Regions from separate parts of the Homo sapiens genome. Here regions 1, 2, 3 and 5 are each linked to region 4. Evidence: fine-mapped expression QTL. A gene starts in region 4. Each other region holds a variant in brackets. All regions are shown on one strand. Distances are from middle to middle.

Region 1 (4,189 bases), 48 kb before region 4:
TAGCAAGAATCTACAAAAAAAAAAAAAAAAAAAAAAAAAATCAACTTAGCCAGGCATGATGACATGTGTTTGTAGTCCCAGCTATTTGGTAAGCTAAAGAAGGAAGATTGCTTGAGCCCAGGAGTTCAAGCCTGCAGTGAGCTCTGATCATGCCATTGCACTCTAGCCTGAATATATAAAATACAAAAAAAAAAAAAATTCAATAACCATGTATTCCAGAAAATTTAGAAAATTCATAAGATCACTGAGAAAGTAATATGTCACTAACATTCTCATCCTACTACCTAAATAGTTGTAATCAATGATTTGGTGTATTTACTCAAAATTTTCTGTCTATGTATACTTATGTTTTTAAAAATAAATAGGATTATCTCATGTTAAAAAAATGTAAGTCATTTCCAATTCAGGTGCCAAAGAAAGTTTTACTTCTGGGTAGGGCACAGTGGCTCACACCTGTAATCCCAGCACTTTGGGAGGCTGAGGCGGGTGGATCACAAGGTCAGGAGTTCAAGACCAGCCTGGCCAAGATGGTGAAATCCCATCTCTACTAAAAATACAAAAATTAGCTTGGTGTGGTGGTGGGCACCTGTAATCCCAGCTACTCAGGAGGATGAGGCAGAGAATTGCTTGAACCCGGGAGGCAGATGTTGCAGTGAGCTGAGATCGTGCCACTGCACACCAGCCTGAGTGACAGAGCGAGACTTCATCTCAAAAAAAAAAAGAAAGTTTTACTTCTGAGACATTAGTATACTTTTTCCTTATATGGCACAAATAATGTAGCATCATATTTTTTTTTCATATTCTCAAGCATCATCATGTTTTCCTTTTTGTTCTGGCCACTGGGAAGCTCAATCTAAATATGTGGCCAACTTTGATAAACGCCTAGAATCCTTTGTCTGCTTGTTTATGTCCTAACTTCCTTCCTGGCCCTGATCTATTAAATCTCTCTTTCCCTAATCCTGATTTGTTCTCTATGTATAGCTTTGTAGTTTACTGTTGTATTGTATTGTGTTATTGTACATACATAATATTATAGGTACTATTGTAAGCTCCACATGGAAAAGGGTCGATGATATGTAAGTAGTCACTAGGAAGAAGATTCATCAATATTAAGTATTCTTGTAATCTGTCACAATCACCTGATTAACCTGTCATCATATGGTAAGCCCCAGGTGGCAACAAAGCAGGGGAGGGGATGGCCAGTGTTTATATGCGTGTGGGGAAGAGATAGAGACAGAGAGGCTTCAACCACCCCATATAGAACTCTAGAATCTGCTTGGGTTCCTGGTAGCAGTTTGTCACTTGAGAGAGGGTTTGTGAGCTTTATCTGCTGTCTCCTGATAAACCTGGGTGACTCACTTGTCTCTGGCCTGTATGTCTGTCACAGCTCCTGGCCACTCCCTGAACTCCAGAATAGGCACCTTCAATCCACTTTCTACTGGGTCCCAGGGTGATTTTCTTTTTTTCTTCACTACAAATGTGACCACATGACGCTCCTGCTTAAACCCTTCAGTGTTACCCACAAAGTACCCCTAAAAAATTCCTAATCGAATGCAGCCCTCTCGTTTCATAATTGAGAAGAATGTGACCCAGAGGTAAAGCAATTTAGTGGCACAGTTGGGACCAGAACTGAGGTTTCATTTATTTGTTCATTCATTCCTCCATGCATACATTTATTTACTAAAAAATTTTGAGGACTAATAGGCATCAGGCACGTTGGAGGCTCTGGAGACATAGCAGTGAGCGACACACCGGGTCTGCTGTCTTCCAGCTTCCACGCTAAAGGGGCAGGATGCAAGAAACAGATTGACGCAGAAATGAACAAGGTTTCAGATTGCTCTAAGGGCTATGAGACTTAAAAAGGAGGCACCATGCTGGAGAGTGGGTTGGGGTGGGGTGGTAGAAGAGGCTTGAGGTAGGGTGGTCGGGGAGACTCTCTGGTTGTGACATTTGAGCAGTGGCTAGCGTTGGGAAGATCTGGGTCTTTGCATGCATATGAGGTCTTGAGGAGAGCACCCACCTGGCTCCTTCTAGCACTCTGAGGAGAAGGAGAGGGCAGGAGGGGAGTTCTGTAGCAGGGATGGCAGGGTCAAGTCTCGGAGAGCCTTGGCAAGGTCTCCCGCCCTGTCATCACAATTGTGGTTTCCAAAACTCATCACAGGCTCAGGTGTGTTTTCAGGCCAAAGGCTTTTGGTTGAAAAGCAAGGAGAAAATGGAGAGCTAAGCATTTCCTTTCATGCCCAGCCCAACCAAGGCACAGCCCTTCTCACTGGATGAAATTTACACCTAACGTTATTTTTAGTCTTCTCTCTCCAGCTCAATGAATACACCTCACATGCAAGAGAAGATGAATTTATCTTTGTGGTTGAGAAATGCTCACATGTGAGAGCGGGAAAGAACACAAGCTTTGGAGGGAAGGAGAACATGGTTGAAACCTTGGTCCTGAAACCTGGTGTGGTCTTTAAGCCAGCTTCCTCACCTTCTACCCCACAGTGTC[C/G]CATCTGTCAATAAAATTAGTAAGGACTGGGGTGTATACGGTGCTTTGTGTTCTTTACAAATATTATCTCAGTTCATCTCCTAAGAACTCTCTTATGGTACTATTATTTTCAAACCCATTTTACTGATGGGGAAACTGAGACCCAGAGAAAGGGACCTGAAATTCAAACCCAAGCAGTCCCACACCAAGGTCTATCCCAAAGTCTTCCCCAGGATGTCATATCATCTTGTGCATGGTACTGCCATTGGGAAGTGTAAAAGAACTAGAGCTGGTAAAAGGCCCAGATGAGACTCTGGGCCCCCTCAGCATTGAATCCATCTTCTTTTTACTCTGAAGAACCAGACGGATGGGGCACAAGCAGGTGCCCCATGGCTGCAAATGTGAGGCAGTGCAGGGGGGTAAGACTGGTTGGCTCACCAGGGTCCCCAGCCCAGCAGCCAAATGCCCAGGTATTCCTCCTCCCTTCTGCCAAGGAAAAGAAAAATAGGTTTGACTTCTTTTCACTGTAGTCGTGGTCCCCAGCCATGACCCTTTCCCCTGGATTTCATTGTTATGCAGAAGCCACTCCGTCCCAGGCAGAGCGTGTCCCTCCTTTAGGCTCCCACTGCACCACGTACATCCTGTATCTCGCCCTTATAAACCTGTATGGTAATTACTTTACTTGCCCAGGGCAAGAGTACAAACAGAGACCCACATATTATACGTCTAAATATTAAAAGTTATAAATCAAGCTAATGAACTGTTAAATAAAATATGTCTAGCTGCATACCTTGACAAATATATCTGCCTAACAATCTGGAAGGTCAAGATTGAATTTAGAAATCTCAGATGCCTCAGCATTTTGCGCCTACAGGTGGTGACCTTGGAAAGCCAATCCCAAGCCCCAGGCCCGGCTCCTGCCCCACTTCTCTCCCCGCCTTGGTCTGTATCTGTACTGAGATGGGCCTTGTGCAGGCAAAAACACCTGAGGGTGCCCCGGCCTCACAGCCAAACTCCATTGTCTATTTCCCCTCCCAACCAACAGCTACCCTTGGCCACCAATGGGCTTCAAGGTTTGCGCACGGGCGGCTTGCTCAGCCTTTGAGAGGACAGACCTGGGGAAGGAGTCCATGCAGTTTCTGGAAATAAGCTCATAGCTGTTTGGGCAAGGTATTCTAGTCCCCAGTGTGTGCATAGACCATGAGCTACAACATTGGTATCTAATAGAAACATAACGTGAGTCATAAATGCAAGCCACGTGTGTAATTTAAAATATAGTTAATCTTTGAATAACACAGAGGTTAGCGGCAGTACCCCCTGATCACAGTCATACCAGCTTATAACTTGACTTCCTTAAAACCTATCTACTAAGCTGAAGCAGGAGGATTGCTTGAGCCCAGGAGTTTGAGACCAGACCTAGCAACCAGTGAGACCCTGTCTCTACAAAAAAAAAATAAAGAAAAATTATCTGGGTGTGGTAGTGCAGCCTGTAGTTCCAGCTATTTGGGAGGCTGAGGAGGAAGGATCACTTGAGCCTGGGAGGTTGAGGTTACAGTGAACTGTGATCACGCCACTGCACTCCAGCCTGGGTGACAGAGCAAAACCCTGTCTCAAAAACAAAAAAACAAAAACAAAAACAAACCACTAATAGCCTGCTGTTGACCAGAAGCCTTACCAATAAACACATATTTTGTATGTTATACGTATTATACA
Region 2 (4,000 bases), 36 kb before region 4:
AGGTGAGGGGAAGTCTGGAAGACGAATAGATGAAAGGAGGGCAGGAAGGGAGGGAGGAAAGAGGAAGGAAGAGGTGCTGATTCTTGCAATTTTCTAGAACCTCTCCAAAGTCTTTTTTCCTCCATGACCCTTTCTCCCCTTGCCCTGGGATTCTCTTGTCCTCACTACCCTTGCAGTCTCCCACTCCTGCGTATTGTACAAGCTGGTGCAGACTGAGAAATGTTGCTCTGAAAGACAGGAAAGGGAATTTTTTTAAACATCTGCTTCATTACCCAGCTCCCCACTGCCCAGCCACCAATACACACAGACACATTGAATGTCTCCACAGGTCCTCTCAGCTCTTTGAAAATGATGAACTATCCAATCATTCACTTCTCTAAGTCTCCACCACCCCATCCCTGTCACTCCAGATGAGAAATTCATATAAAGATGGCTTTGCTCAGAAAACAATGTTGCCTGTGGCCATTAAGAAAAAAAGGTCTGCCCACCCTTAAATGTTTATCATAGCTCCTGATTTTTTTCTTTTCTTAAATCTTTTTTTCTTTTTTTTGACTTGGAGCAAGGAGGGTCTGACTGTCACTTGGAGCTAAACCAGTCTCCAAGTGGCCATCAGACCCTCTTTGCCCCAAGTCAGTACCGTCCTCAGTGACAGCTCTGATATGGGTTAAATTGTGTCACCCAAAAAGACGTGTTGAAGCCCTGACCCCCATACCTTGGAGTGTGACCTTCTTTGACAGTAGGGCTGTTGAAGATGTCATTAGTTAAGATGAGGTCATACTGGAGTAGGGTGGGCCGTTAATCCAGTATGACTGGTGCCTTCCCAGAAGAGGAGAAGGGACATACATGAAGTCACATAAGGGAAGAACACCATATGACACCGGAGGAAGGGGCTGGAGTGATGCAGCTGCAGGCCGGGGAACATCAAAGATCGCCAGCCAACCACCGGAAGCAAGGAGAGGCAAGGAAGCATCTGCCCAGAGTTTCAGAGGAACAGGGCCCTGCTGACACCATGATTTTCCAACCCTGGCCTCCAGAGCTGTGGGAGAATACGTTTCCATTGTTTTCAGCCACCCAGTTTGTGGTACTTTGTTTATGGCAGCCCTAGCAGGTTGATATAACTTCCTGCTATTGCCTTTGAAGCTACCGCTGGACAATAGTCTTTCAAAAGGAACTAGGGGTTTGATTTCAATGGGATGAATTTGAATAGAGTTTTGGGAGCGAAACACATATGCTGTCACTGAATTCTCAAAAAGCCTGATTTCCTCCAAGTGTCCTATCAAAAATATAAAGACATTTGAAGATAAAACACACCTTCCTTTTCCTTATCCGAGAAAACCCCAAGTTCTCAGGATAACAGACACGGGACGGCAGAACTCAAGAGAGAGTGGACTTGTGGCAAATGTGGAATCCCAGGCCCGCTGTGTGGCTATCAGCTGCGTGGTCTTGATTGAGTGTGTCAGTCAGGGTCCTGGAGGAAACGCCACTCACTGCAGATGGGTCAGGTGAAGAGACTTTAAGGAACTGACCACATGCTGTGTGCTGTGGCTCCCACCTATCATCCCAGCTACTTGGGAGGCTGAGGTGGGAGGATCACATGAGCCCAGGAGTTCAAGGCTGTGGTGAGCTATGATCGCACCACTGTACTCCAGCCCAGGTGACAGAGCGAAACCCCATCTCTCTACTATAAAATGAAAAAAAAAGAAAAAGAAAAAGAGGGAAGGGACCACACAGGTGCTGGGAGGATGAGGAAATAAACCAGGAATGACGAAGCATGCAAAGAAGAGCAACGAGGAGGAGTTGTTACCCCT[T/C]CAGAGCAGAGGGGACAGACGGAGGAAACGGTGGCATTGCCCTCTATCAGGCATCACACTCATGGAGGGACTCAACGACTGGCAGACAGGTGGCACCTAACTAGGTAAGGATGGGGAAGAAAGACTTCGACTTCTCTCTTCTCCTGCTAGTGCCTCAATTGGCTGAACCCAGCAGGAAGCCCAGAGGACAAGGACCCCAGCACAAAGAGATGGCAGAGAGAGCAAATGGAGAAGAACTACTACAGCAAGCCATTCTCCATTCCGAACTAAGTATTTCCCTGGCCAAATGGGAGTAAGAATACTGACTGCTAGGCTTGTGACATGCCTATCACTTGGTCATGAATTATAAGGGACATAGCACAATGCTGGGCAAAGAGGATTGTCCTCGAGAAACACCCAGTGAATAAACAATTAATGGGCTGAGTGGATTTTCTTACGAGGCACACACATCATTCTTTTTTTCTAAAAAAAAAAAAAAAATCTCCAATGATAGACTTGGATAAATTATGCCTCAACTCCATGTCATAAAAGGTACAGAGGGAATTGTACAGCATATTAGAGATAATTAACTCCAAGTAGAATCAGGGCTGCCAGAATTCAGGAAGGACTCTGTGAGTCAATCTCACCCTAAAAAGGCACTGAGGCGCATGTACAGAAAGGAAAATAGAAGCCAATTAATTCAAAACATTTGGTACCTTGTAGCCTCAAGAGGTTTAGATGGAAGCACTTAGCGAGTGTGACTGAAATGGCAAGTACGTCCGGCTGCATGTGATAGATTGGTGGGAGCTGATTCAGCCACCATGCAGAGTACTGAGAAGTTGTGTCCATTTCTAGGAACTGTTGACTCAAAGGCAAAATGCAAGATGGAGCTTCATTAGGGCAGGTGGGTTTTGAAGGAGAGTTGAGACAAAGGTTATTTTTATCTCGGGGCTGTTTTCCAATCTCTCCTCACTTTCAAGGAAGGGAACGGATAGAGCACCTACTGTGTGTTGAGTAGGAGCTAAAAGGCCCCTGCACACCACTTCAGCGAATCCTCACAGCAACCAGGAGAGCGAGAAGAGGAAAGAGGCTCAGGGAAGGCTTAGGGACTTTGAGCCTTGCCCAAAGTCCCATCAAAGCTGGGGGGCCCAAGAGGAATTCAAACTTATGTTGTTTTCACGCTATACCACGTGACCTTTTTTTCCTTTTCTTTTTCTTTTCCTTTTCTTTTTTTTTTTTTAGAAAGGATTTCACTCCGTCACCCAGACTAGAGGGTAGTGCATAATCATAGCTCACTGCAGCCTTGACCTCCTGGGCTCAAACAATCCTCCTGCCTCAGCCTCATTAGTAGGTGGGACTATAGGCACATGCCACCAAGCCAGGGTGACTTTTAATTGTTTTTGTACAGAGCAGGTCTCCTTATTTTGCCCAGGCTGATCTCAAACTCCTGGGCACAAGTGATCCTCCCACCTCTGTCTCCCAAAGTGCTGAGATCACCGGTGTGAGCCACCGCACCCGGCCCAAGTGACTTTTTCCATCCCATCATGTGAGTCAAACCTCTTGGCTCCACTCTCAAGATATGGTCCTAAGAAACTACAGAAACAATTTCACCATACTGGAAGAAACACAAATATCAAACAACAAAGGAAGAACAGAAAGAGGGATCCTGCAGGGAAATCCCAGTTCTGCCTCTGCCTCATAGGTTGCTACCACCAGATTTCGATGGTTCTACCACACACACTTTTTGTTTTCTTTTTCACATTTTAACATCTCAAAAATCAGAGTATATTTTACAATTGATGGCATGTCAGAGTTTAATTGACAGTTGTTATTCTTTCTTGATGGCACATTACACAATGGTGAGCCTTATCATGTACTGTTGGCACATTTATGAAATATATTATTATCAGCTTCATTTTTCACAGATGAGTAATGCAGCCTGTTCACAAGCAAATCAGTGGTCCCCTGCCCACTTCCCTGACCTCACCTCCGCCTAGGATGCCTGATTCTTTCTTTCTTTCTTTCTTTCTTTCTTTCTTTCTTTCTTTCTTTCTTTCTTTCTTTCCTTCCTTCCTTCCTTCCTTCCTTCCTTCCTTCCTTCCTTCCTTCCTTCCTTCCTTCTTTCTTTCTTTCTTTCTTTCTTTCTTTCTTTCTTTCTTTCTTTCTTTCTTTCTTTCTTTCTTTCTTTCTTCTTTCTTCCTCTCCTTTTTCTT
Region 3 (4,000 bases), 54 kb before region 4:
TCTTCAGCAGGGGAATGATGTCTCTGTGCAATCAGAATCTGGTTCCCACAAAAGGTAGAAGGGTTGCCCTGATTTCTCATCTTTGTCACGACTACAAGATTTATGTCAGAAGAGAGAGAAATGCCAGAAAGATGCAGAAGCCTGGAATTAACTGCACAGGCCTGTATTTTGAAACAGGTGGCTTGTCTTCCTTGAAAGATGACAGTTCTCCAATCTTTTTGAGGAACCGTTCCAAGAAAGAGGAACAGTAAAAGATTTCCACTCCCAGAGAGCATAGCTCTGCTCACATGTTCCAGTAAGTAATGTTCTCTGTATCACAATGAACAGAAAAATGTGCGTGATGGAATGAAAATCCGTACTGCCTGGCTACCCGTGGGCAGCCTTGGTTACTATGGAAAATTCCTGATTAAAGTCAGCAGAAGAATTTCCTAGCTAACGACTATTATTAATAGGAGCTTCAGCCTTGCGCTGACATTCTTTAATATGTCATTGCACAAGCCAGGTGATTAAACTCCTATGTTTTTTAAAAGGAAACAGAATGCACCCACCTTCTCCAGGCTGACTACCCTTTTTAATAACCCACGCGGTCCTGCTTAGTTAGTATAAGAACAAAACTGCAACCATGAAATTATTTTAACAAGACCATAAAAAAAACAATTTGCTTGAGTGATGTTTAGGGAGAAGGGGGGACCCACCCTCTCCTTAAACTAATTAAACTGTACTATATGTCCTTGTGTAGTTCCTGACATTTTTCTGGTTCACTCAGTTTGAATCGCTACACGGGGATCGGTGCCAAGCTCCCAAATGGCTAACTCAAAACAAAAGCAGGGTCTCCGGAGTATTCCTAGGCATCCAGCAAATTGAGGGAAAGTTATTTTGGGTTAATCAATGTACTTCAGTTGCAATCACATCTTGCCCCATAGAAAAGACGGAAAACAAGGACTCACTGTTTGAAGTCTAACTCAGGGTGAACTAGGAAGTGACACTGACCTTCTTATGTTCTTCGTGTTTCACTATTTTATTTTTTTCTGAAAAATTACACCCTGCTTTGCATGAAGCCAAAAACAGTAGCCCCTCATGTTCCATTTCTCCCCCCAACCTGCTGATAGTTTATGTCTTTCCCACTCACACTGGCGATTACCAGAAGCCACTGGCAGCTTCCTTGAATGTCTTTACAGGCAAGGAGTCTATTCTCAGCCTGGTAGGGACTAGACATTGATTAATGGCTGGGAACTTTGGTTTCTGGCAAGACAAGCCTTAGTTTAAGCTGAGGAGGGCTTTGGGTGTTGGTCAGACTCTTGTCAAAGTCAAACTGGGAGGCACAATGGGTGTCTTGGACACAGCACCGTCACGCATGTCTTAGTCTCCTTCTGAGAAATGTGCCCCTGTGTATTAAGACCCAATATCATGGCCTTAACACTCCTTGAAACTAATGTTTACCAATCACTTCAGAGTTTAGAGAAAGTGTTCGCTTCTGAAAAGCTCTTTAACGTTGATGAGGCAATCATTTAAATTCCGAAGAACTGTGGAGCACAGATAAAGCGCATAATTCAATTTATTTCTGTTTAAAGCAATATACAATGAACTGCCATGTGTGAGATTCTGATGGGGTACCATCCTTTGGATGAACAGGATGAAACTGATAGAGGTGCTTTCTGACTTCAGGGAAATTAGACTGTCCTAATTTAGAGAGGAATCAGTATGATAAATGGTAGAACTGCTCATAGTGATAAGCCCTAACATTTTCATTATGTTCTGCAATATGCAAAGTACATGCATATAAGTGTATAGACAGCTAGCTACAAGGCCATTCTTTTCTCCTGGCAATGGATGCCAATGGTCTCTGATTGCTCTCCCACTGGTTCATCCAACCCAGTGGGAAAAATATCAGCTGGAGTCATGAGGTATTATGCAGGTGAAAACAATCAAGTGGTTGACTAAGAAAGTCTGGGCCTTTGGAGTCAGACTGAGATGTGAATCCTGACTGTTCTAACTCAAAGCCTGTCAAATGAGAGACACGTCCCTCTCCATCTTGTATGATACTTGCTTTATCAATTCCAGGTGTGCCTCATACAGAGGTGCTGGTCCATGCCTCAGCCTTGCCATGCTGTCCTCTACTCAGGTCCCCTGTCCTGTGCCATTGTACATCTTGTCTCCTGCCCCAGAGCTCCATGAA[G/A]AGTGTCGTCTTGCTCTTTGCAAAACATCTGCCTCTTTCTTTGTCTGGAGGAGGAGCTGCCAGGAAGGGAAGCTGCCAGGAAGAAGAGCAACTCAAGTTGGCCTACTTCCTGTTTTGAAACCCAGGGACTTGCTTGCAATCAAGGATGGGTTGTAGAGGCTTGAGGAAGATAGTTCCCAGCACCCCATGAATAAAGGGCTGGTTGTGGCGTGTGGTTCGCATGGCTGGCAGTGTGCTCTTGAGCCTATTTCTGGCTTAACAATATGCCCTCCCTCCATGGGGTTGCATTTTCTTAGAAATCCAAGATGCCAAGAAGGGCAATGTTGGTGGCCTGATCTGGTACAGGAAAGCTAGCCTGATGGTATGTGTTCCTCTACCTTTGATACTTAGTGTTTTCCTCCTTCCCTGTTCCCATGGAGAAGAAGCAGCAGGGCTACTGGGGCACCGAAGGAGAACTCACGACTTACTCCCTACAGCTTTCCAGAAGCACAATGCGTGGCCCTCATCTCTGGCACCACAGTCGCTCCCCTCTTTCAAGCCACATCATCTCTTGTTTGAATGCCTGCAATATCTCCTAGTCACTGTCCACGCCCTTGCCTTCCTGCAATACCTAGTCCATGCAACAGTATCATCTTTTCAGAATGCAACTGTGACCCAGGGCTGCCCAATCAGAGCATGACATCGCCTGGCCGGCATGACTGGTTGAGGGATGGCCTGTAATCTAAGCTAGTGAATAATTATAACTCTCACCTTTTAAGCTCTTGCTGTGTGCCAGACATGGGGCAAAACCCCTGACAACCAGCATCTCACTTCACCCTCACAATAATCCTATGCTGTCAGCACTATTATTATTAGAGGGGGTTAGTAGCTTGCCACAGGAATCTACTGAGAAAAGCGTCAGAACCTGAATTCAATACTTTCTAAATCCACAACCCATGTTTACAATGAAGTGTTAACAGAGACATAGAGCACCCTGTGGCTATTTTCTCCCAACAACAACACTTTTCACTATGTCTTCTAGTGAGGCCAGTGTTGTGGTGCCATGTAGACAAAGCCAAAAACAAAAAAACAGGGGCTGGGGGGACCTGCTGAACAGCCTGGCTACCCAGGGCTTATCAGCGAGATTGTCCTCCCTCCTGCAAGCAAGGTAAGGCATATATGCCCCCTAACAGTAGTAGGTTTTATTTTTTTTTTTCTGAATAAAAAGCCACCACATTGTAGTAATCTGCTACATCTTGGTGGACTGATCAGTTTCTCCTCCTGAAATTGATCTGGACATATTTTTGCATTTATCCTGGGATGGAACCTCCTGCAAGATTCCTCCTTTTTGGTTTGGTTTGAAACACAATGGTTTGCCACCATTACCGATATCCTCAGCACACTTAGCAGGCTGTCCCAAGAGTGGAAGAGTCCCGTCGTGCACTGGGCCAGGAATCTGGGGTCAGAAGGACCAGTGTGAAGAGCTGTGTAACTCCAACACAGCACAGGAGCTAGCTAAACCCATCTCTCAATAGGAGAAGAACCCTACCTCTCAGGGCTGGAGGAGGGCTGCACTCATTTCTGTCCATGCTTAGTCAAGTGCCTGGCACACACCCTCCTAAAGACTAAGTAAATTGTAGCTCTTTTTATTCATTGTTCTACTGAGAGGAAGAGTTGATTTTAAACTCATGATTATTGGCTTAATTAATTTATACCCCAAAATTCAAACACATGTTGCTGATATATAAGTAGCCCAGTCCTTCCACTTTTTGTCTCCCTTTCTTTTTTTTTTTTTTTTTTTTGAGACAGAGTCTTGCTCTGTCACCCAGGCTGGGGTGCAGTGGC
Region 4 (4,000 bases):
GCTCATGGCACAATGAAAGAGAATAAAATCACCGATTGAAGGCCCTCAGGTGTTCTACACGGAAGTGATGGAGGATTGACAGACTGAGGCAGAAGTTGAGACCATTAGAGGAAGGCTATGGAAATGAAATGGAAGCCACCTTTGTTCATACTATTTTTCATTAATCTTGGTATCTTTTTTTTCCCTCTAGTTGTGCCAGTTACTTCTGGCTCTACCCTGATTTCTTTGTTCATTTTTCTTCCTGCTAAAGGAAAATACTCACTTATTTAACATATTTAAAGCTGTGCTGAGAGCAAAGCATTATCCTAAGCCCTGATGGTGGTCATAGCGTTGGGAATGTACAAAGATAAACAGGACATTAAAGCCCTTGAGTACCAAACATAATGAAAAGTCTGATATGTGAGCTCCAAACCAAATGGCAAAAGGAAGGAAATAATTAATTCAGACTTGGAAACAGGAGTGAGGGGTGGGGGGTGGGTGACGGGTGGAAGGGGTGGCAGTGGGTTGGGGGGCTGTCACTCAGGGAAGACTTCATTGTTGCTGGTTTGTTCATTCACGTTTTCAGGATTCATTCACTGATGTCTCCTATCTACAATGTCTGCTCCTGAAAGAGCCCACGGTCCAGCACAGGTCTGGAAGACATAAACCATCACAATATAGTGTGAGAAACAAGCACGAGAGGTACACAGGGCCGTGGACGCTTATAAGAGAGAATTCAGAAGATGCTGTTGGTGGCTTTTGAACTGATTCCTAGAAATAAATAGGAATTTACCAAAGGAGAAGAGTGGAAAGGACATGTAAAAAGGCATTGAGAGTGTGTTTGGAGGGGGAAGAGGCACTAAGATATACCACCCATTAGGTAGAAAGGCTTGAATACCAGACTAACAAGTTTGGCCTTTATCTTCGAAATAATGGGCAACCATAGAAGAAATCGGAGCATGTGAGGGTCAAGATAAAATTTTAGTTTTGGAATTTTCCCTCTGGTATTGCGTGTAAGGTGTACTAGATCGGGATGATACGGGGGCATAGCCACAGACGCCTCAGCTGCATCTCTGCACCTGGGAGACTGCACCAGATGCGAGCCTAGCAGAATGGGAGAGTGGGAGGTGCGGGTGAGCGAATGGAAGGTTAAGGGAGAGTCCCTCGTGAGGTCTACATTCTGGGCAAGGGCAAACGCAGTTCTAGGCACCGCACAGCTGCTGGCAAGACCCGCCTCCCCTTCCAGATCCCTCTGGGGCGGAGCTCGGGCCAGAGCACGTGATGCTTGGAGCACCACCTTTACTGTGGGCACCCTTCTCATTCATCCGCGGTTTCACGGGCCGCCACTTCGATCTCCAACACCTTGACCGTATGCCTTCGTGAGCGAGGAATCCGTTCTCCTTGACACGTCCCTATTGCTCCTCCTGCAAAGCCCAGTTAGGGAAGAGAAATATCAAAGGAGTCCCTTGCCCACACAAAAGATGGCGACCTGCTGCGCTCACTCTGGGTGGGGGAAGCGGGTTCCAGGCGCCGGGCCTCACTAGGCGAGGCGCAGACGGAAGAGGCGTCTCTGGAGGTAACTTTTCGACCTTCCTGGGAGTAGCTCTGAAGCGAGGGGGCGTGGCCTCGCCTGAGTTCTAACAGATGATTGGTCTTCCGGCAGGTAGGTGGGGAATGAGTGCTACCCCCACCCCTCCCTCTTCGAACCGGAAGTGTCTCTGGGTCTTTCCAGCTGGTTGTCATTTCACTCGGCTCGGTCCTGAGGAGAAGGACTCAGCCGCGGCTGCGGGACCCGGGCACCGGGAGGCGGTGGCGGCGGCGGCGGCGGCAGCAGCGGCGACAGCAGAGGAGGAAGAGGAGGAAGAAGGAAAGAAAAAGAAGAACCAGGAGGAGTCCTCAACAACGACAGCGGGGACTGCGGGACCAGGGTAAAGCGGCGACGGCGGCGACGGCCCAGCAACCGTGAGGAGAAACAAAAGCCTTCTAAATTATAGTTTAAAAAAAAATTCTGGGGGAAAAGAGAGAGAAAGCCGAGGGGGGAGGCCCTTCTCCTTTAAAATAACTACGGTAGTGGGTTTTTCCTTTTTTTCCTCTTTTTTCCCTCTCTGCGGAGAATCGAACTGAGGGAACTGAACAAACCGCCCCTGGGTCCCATGAGGGAAAAAAACCCCGGAGCCGCAGAGAGGGGAAGAGGCAGAAACCGCAGGACCTTCCAGGTCGCCCCCTCGGTCCCCGCACCCCCAGGCCGCCCGCTCACCCTCGTCGAGTCTCGCTAATCCCTCCTGATCGCGACCCCCGCAAGAGGGAGAAACGGGTGTTTCCAACCCCTTTCATGGGGGAGAGGAAGCCGCGGGGAGCCCAGGAACAGCGACCGCAGCAAGATCTGCACCCGGAGCCTCAGGAACAGCCCCAGAGGCCAAAACTGCACCCTGCGAAAGAGCAGAAAACAGGACCAGGAACAGCAGAAACCTCCCTGCAATCATCTTTCCATTAGTCAATGCTGATTTCCTCTCCCGAAACCAGGAATTCACTTCCCACCCCAGATAACCTAATATAATCTATATATATAAATATATAATATATAATGTTCTTAAATTATTCCTGATTTTTTTTTAACCAAGCTGCCAAGAAAAGAACGTATTCCCCTCTTAGTCCTATTCTAATTTTTATGTGAGTGAATCTAAACTGCTGAGGAAAACCATATGTGATTGTTAAATTATATATATCTATATTTTTACTCCGCGCAAGGCTTATTCTTCTACATCCATAGATGCTTGAGAAGCTCTGTTTTTGTCATTCATGTACATTTTCCTTTGGAAAAAGAAAGCGCCTATTTTACTAACCAAAGACTTGATTTTTACCCTCTTCATTTTTATTCCCTCCTAAAAATAAGCCCAATTGGATCCAAGTCAATGTTTTAAGAGATTTTTTTAAGAGTTGTTTTTTCTTTCAGAGACCAGAATTCCAAATCAGAACAATTTAAGGTGATAAGCTGCGATCTTTGAGCTAGCTATAAATAAGACATTTCAAGCAAGCAAGCAAACAACTTAAATTTGGGGTAGAGGAAAAAAAAGGCGTGAGACATCAGGTTGTCATTTTTTATTGTGAGATTCTGCTCCTAAAGATAATAAATGGGGGATTACGGGTTTGGAGTGCTAGTGCAAAGCAATACTGGGAATAAATCTGCTTTTCCAGTCAGATTCCATCCACATCTGCAGCCTCCACACCATCACCAAAATGCCACCCCCAGCCCTGCTGCTTTTATAAATAATAACACAGCTGCCAATGGCAGCAGTGCTGGGTCAGCTTGGCTTTTTCCTGCTCCAGCTACCCATAACATTCAGGATGAGATCTTGGGGTCAGAAAAAGCAAAAAGTCAGCAACAGGAACAGCAAGACCCCTTAGAAAAGCAGCAGCTTTCCCCAAGTCCAGGTCAGGAAGCTGGAATACTGCCTGAAACAGAGAAGGCAAAATCAGAAGAAAATCAAGGGGACAATTCTTCGGAAAATGGCAATGGGAAGGAGAAAATAAGGATCGAATCTCCAGTGTTGACAGGGTTTGATTATCAAGAAGCCACTGGGCTAGGTACTTCAACCCAACCCTTGACATCTAGCGCATCGTCTCTTACTGGTTTCAGTAACTGGTCAGCAGCGATAGCGCCTTCCTCCTCTACAATAATCAATGAAGATGCAAGTTTCTTTCACCAGGGAGGGGTCCCTGCTGCTTCGGCTAATAACGGTGCTCTGTTGTTTCAAAATTTCCCCCATCATGTCAGCCCTGGCTTTGGAGGCAGCTTCTCTCCTCAGATCGGGCCTCTCTCACAGCACCACCCACATCACCCTCATTTCCAGCATCATCACAGCCAGCATCAGCAGCAAAGGAGGTCTCCTGCCAGTCCCCATCCCCCACCCTTCACACATAGAAATGCTGCTTTTAACCAGCTGCCTCATTTGGCGAATAATCTTAACAAACCCCCCTCTCCGTGGAGCAGCTACCAGAGTCCGTCACCAACACCCTCCTC
Region 5 (4,000 bases), 76 kb after region 4:
GTTTTGCTCTTGTTGCCCAGGCTGGAGTGAGTGCAATGGTGTGCTCTCAGCTCACTGCAACCCCTGCCTCCCGTGTTCAAGCCATTCTCCTACCTCAGCCTCCAAAGTAGCTGGGATTACAGGCATGCACCACCATGCCCAACTAATTTTGTATTTTTAGTAGAGATGGGGTTTCTCCATGTTGGTCAGGCTGGTCTCGAACTCCTGACCTCAGGTGATCCGCCCGCCTTGGCCTCCCAAAGTGCTGGGATTACAGGCGTGAGCCACCGTGCCCAGCCAGAAACCTATTTACTTTGTTGAAAGTGTCCCTCTCACTCCAATTTCTCTGACTACAGATTCTGTTTACAGGTAACACATGGAACATACTTTGGGCTATACCACTGTAACATTTTAGTATGTTTCAAGAAGCTTTGAAACCCCACTTTGTTTTTTGGCATCCATACATGTGTTCTGGAAGGGTGCTTGGCCCTGCCACTTGTGAGCCACTTTCAGAGCTGCTTTCATTGCCCACACCTACTTTACTGGAGTTCTAGGTACTTACGTAGCTTCTAAGCCCTGTCCTAGTTCCAGTGCATCCTCCTAATTCGTCTTCCCTCTACTACCATCCCAGAAGAAAGAAAAAGAGAAGTTACTTTGCACAATAAAGCTATTTTGATTATGCTTTTCACTGTCTCAGACCAGCCCTTGTTTCTCATGAGTGCCTCAAATGCCACTTGAGACAAGCAGCTAGTGCTTTGAATCTGCCATTCTATGATATGCTGTCTCCCTTTCTCATCATTCCTATATCCTCCTTCAAAATTTTCTTTTGCAAACTTCCCTCAGCACCCCTCACCCGCTGATTCTCTTGAGAATAGGCGCCACTGGCTTTGAATAAATTCTAAGAATTTAGAAAATGAACATTTGCGCCCCACTAGGAACTCTTACCTAGCAATACCAATTCAGTCGTCCTCATTAGAGAACATTTTATTTTGCCGTGCCTTGAGTCTTCTCAGGATATTTTGGGTTATCATCTTTCTCTAGTCAAGCTGGGTGTCATTGTTGGCTGTCTGGAAAAAGTGTCTTATTGTGATTCAGCGTGGTGACCAGAGTTGGAAAAGTACACATTGTCTCAGGGAAGTTAAAAATGAACAGCAGCATCCCAAATCAGAATGTGAGCAAACCTCCAGCCTTTAGTATTGCGTGTAATTTGATTCAGTGTCAGGGAAAAACTGCCTGTGGGTAGCTGGGCTGGAGGTGGTGAATCAGTGCACGCAAATGCCAGCAGCTAAGCTTGAGCTTTCTTTATCCTTTTCATCGGAGTTCTATTTCAGGAAGCCCGGCTTTGATACCCTAAAAATGTCAATGTGATCAAGCAAATGTCACCATTTTAAAGAGATTATTTTCAACTCTTCTCCCACCTCCCTGTGAGACCTAGGAGTGACTCCCCAGAACCCACCAAAGGCAGCAGGGCATTTTAAACTCGTGAAATCAGTTACCCAGGAAGAGAACCGGGAGGGGTGGTGGTAAAATAATTATGTGAAGCTGCAAAGAATGTTTTAGCTAGGATCCAAGAAAGACCTGG[C/T]GCTTCCTTATTTGGAGGAATGAAGGTGATACAGGAGCTAAAAGGAAATTATTTAGGCGGTTAGCGAGGGTAAGAGAGTCCTCAGGCTTCCCTTTTAACAAAAAGCAGCCCCCAAATCATTTCTTTTCTAACAAAGAGCAGCCTGTAAAATCGAGCTGCAGACATAAATAAGCAAGCTGGAAGCCTGCATAGGTAAATGCCGGCAGCTGTGCCAACAGGAAAAGGCTAGCTGGGGGCCAGGCATGTTCAACATGGAGGCTCCCTCTTCCTTTTCTTTGTCGCTATGTGTGCAGTAGAAAGGCAGGCAACATGGCGTTGGCCAGGTAGAGACCCCCATCTGCATAATAAAAGATTAGGGTGGGATGGCCAGCTTCTTTGTGCGTGATGCAAGTGTCACGCCTGGTCCGACCAATCTCTCTGGCCCTACGTGAATCAGACACGCCTCCTCAAGCTCATCTATAAAATCCCATGCATTTCATTGTGGAGCCGGAAGTCCCACCCGGGAGCCCCTCTCTCTCCTAAGAGAGAGAGCTATTCTCTTTCTTTTGCTTATTGAACCTCCAGGGTTAAACTCACTTCTTGTATGTCCGCGTTGTTGATTTCCCTGGCACGAGACGACGAACCTCGGGTACTTACCCCAGACCACAACGCCGCTTCAAAGGCACAATTCCCCTTTCATGTTTGAGGGAAAAGTGCTGTGGGTCCTTGAGTGTTTGGTGACAGAAGGTTTGATTCCAACAGCGTGCTGGGTGGGGTAGGGTGGGTGAGGGTGGGGTGGGGTGAGGGTGACGGTGGGGTGGGGTGAGGGTGAGGGTGGGGTGAGGGTGAGGGTTGGGGTGGGGTGGGGTGAGGGTGGGGTGGGGTGAGGGTGGGGTGGGGTGAGGGTGAGGGTTGGGGTGGGGTGGGGTGGGGTGAGGGTGGGGTGAGGGTGGGGTGGGGTGAGGGTGGGAATGTGGAATAGTCACATCCATCAGATGACTCTCAGCACTGCTGACTTCAATGACGGAATGATTTGGTTCAGAAGAAACTAGTAAATGCTGATCCCCTGTTATATATCAGGCCCTTACATACATTAGCAAGGATAACACTTCCATGAGGTATTGAACAGATCATAGAACTGTCTCATGGAGAAGGTGGGTGATTTGGCCAAGGCTGGGATGTGCCTAGGTCCCAATTCTCATCTACTAATCTCAAATCTTCTCCTTTAAACCTTCTTGCCGCTGGATTAGCAATGAACAGGATCAGGGCTTTTTATTCAAGTTTTATTTTGTTTTTAAAAGAAAAGTTTCATTCCTAAACCTAATCTGGGTGTAACTGTCATATTTGAAACTATAGAGATAGGATGATAAAACAAAAGTTGTAAGATGGGTGGGCACGGTGGCTCACGCCTGTTATCCCAGCACTCCGGGAGACCTAGGCTGAGGATCAATTGAACCCAGGAGTTCAAGACCAGCCTGGGCAACATGGCAAAACCCCGTCTCAACAACAACAACAACAACAACAAAAACTTAGCTGGGCATGGTGGTGTGTGCCTGTCGTTCCAGCTGCTGCGGGGGAAGGGGGCTGCTGAGATGGAGGATCGCTTGAGCCCAGCAGGTGGAGGCTGCAGTGAGCCACGATCTCACTATGGCACTCCAGCCTGAGCAACAAAGTGAGACCATCTTGGGGGATAAAACAAAAACACCACAAAATAAAACCAAAAAAACTCAAAAGTTGTACAATGGCTGGGAACAATGGCTCATGCCTGTAATCCCAGCACTTTGGAAGGTGGGAGGATCACTTGAGGCCAGGAGTTCAAGACGAGTTTGGGCAGCATGGCAAGACCCTGCCTCTAATTTTAAAAATAAAAAATAAAAATAAACTTTGTAAGAGCAAATGTGAGTTTTGATTGTGAGTCCTAAAATGTGGCCACTTCCTCTCTTAAAAACTGACTCTCAGCTAAGACAGGTGCTCGAGGTCATGTAATTAGTTAGTAGGGAGGCAGATAAGGAGGCCAGAGGGAAGTCCTTGAGCTCTGTCAAGCTCAGGTGGCTCAGGCCCACCTCTGCAGTTCTTGTCTGCCTTACTGGCTTCCATTAAGCCCATGAGTATGGCTCAGAGGCCAGAACTGGGTATATATTTTAGGAGTAGGGACAAGGTAGTTGAAATGACATTTCTATTCACTTTAAGGAAGTACAGTACAGACTTCTTAGTACATATTCTTTCTCTTTGATCCAACCACCAAGAGAGACACATCAGTTTGGAGTAGGAAACAAAGAAAAAGGAGGGCCCTTTTCTCTAGTATTGTAAACCCAAGAATTCCAGAAACACAATTTTAGGAGTGAGAATAATAATAATAAGGCCGGGGGCGGTGGCTCATGCCTGTAATCCCAGCACTTTGAGAGGCCAAGGTGGGCAGATCACGAGATCAGGAGTTCGAGACCAGCCTGATCAACATGG

Direction of the effects. Positions count from the first base shown, and alleles are read on the strand shown. Sizes are in standard deviations (SD) of each study's normalised expression. Not every link is listed here.
For the expression in Th2 cells of the gene that starts at base 1,726 in region 4, T is the low allele of the variant in region 5 and C is the other (large effect, 0.82 SD a copy in Schmiedel 2018).

What was found. PIP is the estimated chance that this variant, and not a neighbour inherited with it, causes the effect. A credible set is the group of variants that fine-mapping cannot tell apart.
Region 1: its variant is the best candidate, but not a certain one, in a credible set for the expression of CPEB4 in whole blood (TOPMed, PIP 0.87).
Region 2: its variant is the best candidate, but not a certain one, in a credible set for the expression of CPEB4 in whole blood (INTERVAL, PIP 0.72).
Region 3: its variant is the best candidate, but not a certain one, in a credible set for the expression of CPEB4 in whole blood (TOPMed, PIP 0.58).
Region 5: its variant is the best candidate, but not a certain one, in a credible set for the expression of CPEB4 in Th2 cells (Schmiedel 2018, PIP 0.62).

Annotation. Positions count from the first base shown.
Region 1 is chr5:173,838,140-173,842,328 of GRCh38, forward strand. No RefSeq gene overlaps it. Among named protein-coding and RNA genes, the nearest start is that of CPEB4, 48 kb to the right of the region's middle. The variant C/G (reference allele first, on the strand shown) is at 2,498.
Region 2 is chr5:173,850,997-173,854,996 of GRCh38, forward strand. No RefSeq gene overlaps it. Among named protein-coding and RNA genes, the nearest start is that of CPEB4, 35 kb to the right of the region's middle. RefSeq lists a cis regulatory region at 2,355-2,895. The variant T/C (reference allele first, on the strand shown) is at 1,809.
Region 3 is chr5:173,833,038-173,837,037 of GRCh38, forward strand. No RefSeq gene overlaps it. Among named protein-coding and RNA genes, the nearest start is that of LINC01485, 44 kb to the left of the region's middle. RefSeq lists a silencer at 2,669-2,963. The variant G/A (reference allele first, on the strand shown) is at 2,177.
Region 4 is chr5:173,886,624-173,890,623 of GRCh38, forward strand. CPEB4 (cytoplasmic polyadenylation element binding protein 4) reads left to right here and starts at 1,726. Exons shown (of 10, transcript NM_030627.4): 1 at 1,726-4,000. The coding sequence starts at 3,111. RefSeq lists enhancers at 1,233-1,472, 3,497-3,998, 3,999-4,000.
Region 5 is chr5:173,962,130-173,966,129 of GRCh38, forward strand. No RefSeq gene overlaps it. Among named protein-coding and RNA genes, the nearest start is that of C5orf47, 25 kb to the right of the region's middle. RefSeq lists enhancers at 1,308-2,507, 1,402-2,284. The variant C/T (reference allele first, on the strand shown) is at 1,562.